Linked DNA regions of Homo sapiens. The protein of the gene in region 2 interacts with the protein of the main gene of each other region in a pairwise test. Each region holds a gene or a part of one and is shown on either strand. Other genes may lie near its edges.

Evidence for each region. The genes of interacting proteins can lie anywhere in the genome.
Region 1: the proteins of CHST1 (region 2) and STOM interact in binary tests that used the Homo sapiens proteins (3 or more experiments, as listed by UniProt).

What each region holds. Positions count from the first base shown.
Region 1 is NC_000009.12:121,360,245-121,363,923, reverse strand, and holds part of STOM (stomatin), read left to right. Parts: intron 1-3,679. UniProt on the Homo sapiens protein: Regulates ion channel activity and transmembrane ion transport. Regulates ASIC2 and ASIC3 channel activity.
Region 2 is NC_000011.10:45,659,060-45,662,738, reverse strand, and holds part of CHST1 (carbohydrate sulfotransferase 1), read left to right. Parts: intron 1-3,679. UniProt on the Homo sapiens protein: Sulfotransferase that utilizes 3'-phospho-5'-adenylyl sulfate (PAPS) as sulfonate donor to catalyze the transfer of sulfate to position 6 of internal galactose (Gal) residues of keratan.

The DNA.
Region 1 (3,679 bases), on a different chromosome or scaffold from region 2:
TCACCAGGAGTTTTTGTTTATCAGGCCTTATAAAGGCCTTGCTTCAAAATAAGCAAAAGGGAGAAACTGAGAAGCTGGGAAATGTACCCTTATTTGAATAGCTGGAAGAAAGATCAAATGCATTATTTAATTTATGCAAGTCTTCCTCCTCAAATAAATAGTTGGCTGACATAAAACAGGAACAGCGTGTAACAGCCCATTGTCCAAATCTAGCTGACTCTGTTTCTGTATGTCCCACAAGTTATGAAATAGCTCTTATATTTTTAAATGATTTTAAAAAGGCAAAAGAATACTTTTTCATTACACATGAAAATTATGTGAAATTCAGATTTATGTCCATAAGTTTTATTGGAACAGCTGTGCTGTTTATGTAGGTACTATCTATGGCTTCTTTTGCACTGCAAAAGTAGAGTTGAGTAGTTGCAACAGACTGCAAAGCCCAAAATATTTAGTTCCTGGTTCTTTACAGGAAAAGTTTGCCAATCCTGACAAAGAATCACTGATGAAGAATCATAGTGGCCAAAAGTAACACTTAATCCTGAATACATATGTTTTTAAGAAGAAAGTTCAAAAATTGCCAAGACTTTTCAATTTGGCCTACTGTTACCCCTAAAAAGTGCTGCTGCAACTGAATAGCATGTGTTTTTGAGACTAAACTTCCAGCCTTTCTGTCTTGCCCCATCCAGGCAGGACTGCTCTCATCAATTTACAACATGAAGTGTTTTATTTGCACTCTGTGAAGGCAGAAGGAAAAAAGTGTCCGTTAAAAAGTGGCAGTTTAGGTATTTCAGTAATTCCTTAGCCCATCCTTTCTTATTGTGTAGGATAATGCTTATGACTCACAGTCAGATTCTCAGCAGAGGAAATCCAGTTATCTGTTGAACTTTACAATAATAAAATCTCAGTGATGAGTGGATTTATTACTCCACATGATTTCCAGTAGTGCTAAGGTTAATAGATCTGAAAGTAAATCAGCTGATGGGGAACGGGGACAACTACAGCCCTCTGGACTAATCAGCCTGTGTTGTCATCTTGGAAAGAATGTTTAACTGCCTTTCCAGAAACTTACCCAACAAAAATTACTACACAACAAATTTCATTTGTTTCATGGTTTGCTTGGTTTTCTTTTGTTTCTTCCTACAAGGTCTTTAGCCTTATTACTTTAGAACTTCAGGAGGCATATTTTAACACCTACTTCACAGATTTTTGTAAACATTATAAATACTCATGTATGTAAGGAGGAGCTACATGTGGCTAACATGTCATAGGAATTCATAAATGGTAGTTATTAGGAGTAGTAACAAAAGATACCTTCAGAATGAGAGAATTTTAAGAGTTGTATAATTTCATCTTTTCAGAAAAATTAACTTACACAGGAAATAAGCAGGTACAGAAACACTGCTAAATATATATTCAATGCAGCAGTTTCTAAGTGAGAAATTTGGACACAACAGATTTCATCATATAAAATGGAATTAATTAATTAATCTTTAATAATGATAAAGAATATGTGCTGATATGAAAAAATGTTCATAACATGGATGGGAGGGAGAAGATTTTAAATCACTGTGTATACCATTCTTTCATTATTGAAAAAATACAGGCTAGAAAAGGTTTAAAAGACGTATATCAAGGCAAAAAACATCCAGAGATAAAGTATAGATAATGTTTCTGTTTGTTGAGCTATCATTTCTAATTTTTATAGTAACTTTTGCTTTTAAAGTAAAAAAGCAATTTTAGAAAATGTATGTGAGTTTCCTGGAGGTAAGCCCAACTTGAATGTTCAATACAAAAATTCAAATGTACAGGCTTATGTCCATATTCAGACCCTTCTTTGATTAGTTAAAAGTTTATTCTACTGCCATTTTGGTAATAAAAGAAAAAAAAATACTCTAAACCAGGAGTCCCCAACTCCCAGGCCACAGACGGATCAGATCAGCAACATTAGATTCTCATAAGAGCACAAACCCTATTGTGAACTGCACATATGAGGGATCTAGGTTGTGTATTCCTTATGAGAACCTAATGTCTGATGATCTGTGGTGGAACAGTTTCATCCCAAAACCATGTTCCCCAACCCTTTCCTGTGGAAAAATTGTCTTCCACGAAACTGGTCCCTGGTGCCAAAAAGGTTGGGGACCATTGCTCTAAACTATGGCAAAGTAGTATTTACAACCAAGTATCATAGGATCCCTAATTTTTAGGAACATTCTCAACCAGCAAAATACCCACAAGTGGCCGGGTGCATTGGCTCACGCCTGTAATCCCAGCACTTTGGGAGGCCGAGGCCGGAGGATCACGAGGTCAGGAGATCAAGACCATCCTGGCTAACACGGTGAAACTCCGTCTCTACTAAAAATACAAAAAATTAGCCAGGCATGGTGGTGGGCACCTGTAGTCCCAGCTACTGGGGAGGCTGAGGCAAGAGAATGGCGTGAACCCAGGGGGCAGAGCTTGCAGTGAGCCGAGATCTCGCCACTGCACTCCAGCCTGGGCGACAGAGTGAGATTACATCTAAAAAAAAAAAAAAAAAAAAAAAAAAAGTCCACAAGTGTATTAACCAAAATATCACTATTTGTCCCTTTCCCCATAAAACTGGTAGGAAGGATTCAGTCCTAAAGTAATACATGGGAAACTTGAAGGAAATGAATTTCCTGAGATTTTAGTGAGTGAGAATTTCTTTTCTCTTATTCCCAGAAGTGGTAGATGACTAAGGGTTCATTTATAAGCCTGCTAGAGTTTAAGCCTCACCTCTGAGCTATGCATTTATAGCACAACATGCTATAAATAGACACAGCTGGAATTAAGAGGGCTTCCTCTGTAAAAACATCAGATTTCAGTCTCAGAACTCTAGTGATGCATTCCCAACTTAGATACTGTGTACCTTTTTGAGGGGTAACCAGGTGGGGAAGAATTTTGAGAGGTGAAGGTAGGATACTTTCATTTTAAAGTCATTAGAAAAATATGAAAGTGCCATTTTCCCAGTGTATACACTGATTATTTCTAGCCAAGCATTTGATATGTGAAAGACCAAATCCAGTTTTCAAAATGTGTACTTAATTCCTTGTTCCTGGTGATTTGCAATCCCATATACACATCTGGGGTTCTCAAAAACACAATGTGACATGGGAACTGACACAAAAAAAACTGGGCTGAACTTTTTGGCTTGTCCTCATGTAGATCATAAATGAACTTTTTGAGAGTCTTTGAATGTCCCAGCCTAGCCAGACTGGGGGCAGGTATGAAGCAAATGGCAAATTAAATTGTTTAAGAGGCTTTTGATCAAAAAGGGTAAATGCTATTTTCCCATTTTTCTTCATGAAGATACAAACACTTAAGTAAAATAGAAGGATTACAGAAAACTATCATCTACATTTACTGATCATTTTATCTGTATTCTACAAGGCCAGCCTAATAATCTTTACTTTCCACCGGTAAGGAAACTAAGGTTCAAAGAGGTAAAGATCATGCAACTAAGAAGTATCAGAAGTGAAATTCAAACATAGTTACTCCTCGTTCTCAGGGAATCTCAGTGTAATAAGGGATATAAATGCACAAGAAATTAAAATATTAGATTAAAAAATAATAAAAGATTAAAATCCTACATTGGAAGGTCAATTAAAAATAAATAAAAAATAAAAGATTAGACAAGATATAAGTGCCATAAGATAATTTTCAA
Region 2 (3,679 bases):
AGTTTTCCCCTCTGTAAATGGAGAAAATAACACCGACCTGATAGCATTGTTGTGAAGGTCAAATGCAGTAATATATGAGACACACTTAGAATGGTGCCATAGTAAGTGTTCCAAAGCATCATTCCTAGGAATTAAGTCAGGACATTGGAAGAAACTCCCCAAGCATGCTCACCTAGATCCTTACCCTAGGTCCCAGCAGGTGGTCCTGACATCTTGCTGGGCTGGCCTCCTGCTTTGAAACAGCCTCTCCCCAGCGGCCCCGGCACACCCCCCGCTGGGAAGCAGCCAGCCATTTTTTTCTACGGAGCATTTGTTTCAGGTTCCTGAGGGCCTGGCACAGTGCTAGGCAGCCCTGGGTTTTGTTCAGACCCTACCTGTCTAGGAGCCTTGTGGGAGTAAATCCAGATGGACAGGCAGCTCCCTGCCTCAGCCTTCCCGCTAAAGGCAGGGGTCAGCCCTGGAGCCCCTAGGGGTTGAGGCAGATGGAGAGGAGCAGAAGAGGTCCAGGCAGAGATGGTGGCCCTCTGTGACAGAGTAAAGGGGTTGGGGTGGGGCAGGCCACTGTCCCTGATCCTAGAGAGGCTGGTTCATCTGGCTGGAGAAGCATCTGTCTTCCTCTTGATCAGCCAGAGAGGGACAGGGAGCTCTTCAGAAAGGTAACAGATCCTGCACACTCTCCTAACCCCAAGTTAGAACCTCTAGTGCTCAATTGTTCCCAGCATGCCCTGAGAGTCTGGACAGGCTTGGGGCTCCAGCCTGAGCAGCTGCTGATCTGTTATTGTCCTGCCTGCTGGGGCAGGGTGAGGGGCTCCCCGCCCCAGTGCCTGCCTCAGCAGCATTGAGGAGTGCAGCTAGGGGAGATTCTGAGTGCCACTGATGCCTTACCCGGTCTCCCTTACCGGCCCTTCTCTCTCACTGCAGCCCTCCCCTCCATGGCCCTCAGGTTCCCTGCTCCTTGGCAGGGCTCCCTCCTCCCCTCCTGGAAGATGGGCTTCAGCTCCAGGCTCCTTAAAGACATCCCATGCCCATCACAACCAGCTGTCAGAGCTGCAAAGCCTGCTCTTTAGCTGCCGACCCTTCTCTTTCACAGATGGGAAAACAGATTTCTGGGGTTTGCTTGTATGGCCAGAGCCCAAGCTAGTTGTAGCCTCTCTCAGCTACACACCAGCCCTGGGGATGCCCTTCCCTTCTTGCTGGCTCTCCAAGCAGCCCCAGCTGCTGCCGGCACCCCCATGGACACCCCTTGCCAGCTCTCCGGTTCCTGCCAAGGTTCTACCCCCGGCAGGTCTCTCTGGACTGTTTTGCTGTCCTCATTGGTGTTCACAACACCTTCCAATTTAATATCCTCTGCAAATTTCATTAACGGACTGTTTACTCCCTCTCTCAGGATCATTAATGAAGATGTTAGATAAGATCTGACCCAATGCTGAGGCTTGGCAGCCCTGCCCCCACTCCCAGACTTGCGGCCCTCCAGCCCCTTCCTCTGGGCTTGCCTTCTCCACCCGGGGCCCTTGGGACCTGCCCCCTCCTGCTATTATGCCCCATGACAAGTGCTTAGGGCCAAGTCTGTTTGAATTAATTTTGTAAGATTACTCGAGGCGCTGTATCAAATGCTTTGCTAAAAATCAAGATATATTACCCTGCCTGCGTTTCCTTCATCTACCCGTCTTGTAATTCTATCAAGAAAGCTATCAAGTTTGTCAGGCATGATTTGTTCTTTATAAATCCCCACGGTGCCACATGGGGGCACAGGGTTCCCGCGTTTTCTAAATGTTTAGAGATTCCCTCTTTGTGTTTGCTCCTTGATTAGAGCTGGAAGGCGGTGGGCTGGGAATTGTCAGGAATGCTGTCTCCTTCTCAGGGATGGGGAAGAAGGCGTGGCTTCTTTTCTCCCAAGTTTCTGCCAGTGTCAGTGAGTTGTTTAGGACTCACTGAGTCCCTGCAGTGTGTGGGGGGCCCCAAGCTGGGCACTTGGGGAGGAGGGATAGGATAGAGCTAGGGGAGGAGATGGAGGGGGGCTGGTGCTGTCCTTCAAGGATTCTGCAGGGCAGGTGAAACAGACAGACGAGCCTGCTGCAGACATTCTGAAGGTACCACTGATTGAGAGATTACTGTGTGCCAGTCACTATGCTAACAGCTTTATATGCCAGATGCCATTTAAGCCCCTCTCCTGCCCTGGGAGAGGAGTGTGACCTCCCTTCACCTGAGTACCTGAGAATCAGAAAGTGTTAAGGCTGCCCAGGACTCAAGGTCTGGGTTTCACCCTCTGTTTATGCTGTTATGCTGCTCCTAGCCATTTAAGACACACAAAAAGGGTCAACAAAGCTGAATGGAGTAATTTGGACATTTTAGGAGGTCAGAGTGGGGATGGAAGGGAAGCCTGTAGGGAAAGCTTTGGAGAGGTGAGGACCTCACTCGCATATGAACCTCACATACAACCCCCACAGCCTGAAATCCGTTCGTTCTCTTCCTGCCACTTCTGAGTTGCATGAACAAATCTCTTAACTTCTCTGAGCCTCAGTCCCTCACCTGTGAAATTGATTCAGCTGTAGTTCTTACCCCTAGGCATGTGGAGAGGATTCAATGAGGTGAGGCGTGAAAGGGTCATACCATGGTGCTAGGCCGCCACTGTATATGAGCAGCCGCCATTGTGTTCTACAATGGAGGTCCCTGTTGATGGCAGGCAGAGACACTCATCTGGTTGGCCATATGCCCAGTGGATGGAGCTGTGGCCCCTCCTAATGCTCTTCACCCAGCAGAAGAGGGGTGACAGGGTGAGCCTCACTGGCATCCTGGCCCAGGGGCATCCTTGGGACCAGCTGTGGGCTGGTGATAAGCTTTGGGCTTAGAGCAGGGAAGCCTCAACTGGGCAGAGAGCCCAAACCCGATGCCCCATTCCAGACTGTTTCAGGCCAGATGGTAATAAAGACATTCGTTGGTGTCTTTTTGGTGGCATAGGATTTGGGCATTCCTGGGCTCCCTGGTCATAAAACCACTCAAAGTTCTCACTGCTTGGCTAGCCCAGACCCAGAGTCACTGTGTGGGGAGCACAGTGTGTTTGGACTTCTGCCCATCAGGTGCAGCAGTCCCATGTCCACACCCACTTGGGATCATTTTCATTCTTGTCGTTCAGCTGGGGAGGGAAAACCCTCTGGGAAGCGGTGAGATGGCACACACCTATTGGTATGCCAGGGGAACCAACCAGGAAGGGCAGCATTGGCAGCCCTCAAGCCCCACCAGTGGATGCCCCAGGGACCTGACCCTGGGGGATGGCCAGTAGGTATCAGATGCACCAGTATCTGGGTCGGGGGTGAATGCTGTGATCGAGATCGGCACCAATGTGTCCTGGGACCCTGGCGGCAACCTTGGCCCCGGTGCTCCCTCTCCCTCCCTCTAGCTGGGTGATGCTCTTGGGTGTGGCCTGGGGGTTTTAGCTCTGTGATTAGGGCCAGGGCTTGGGATTCTTTAGAGCCGAGTCTGAATCCTAGCGCCACCACAGACTAGCTGTGCGTGCTTGAACAAGTTCCCACACTTGCTGAGCCTCGCTGCTCCTCGTCTGTGAAAGGTGGCAGTAGCCCCTGGCCTGTGGGATGCATCCCCTGACAGAAGCCAGGTCTGTGATCATCTCTGAGTATCCACGTCGGCAGCCTCCTCCATCCCATGTGACAGTCTCAAGGCT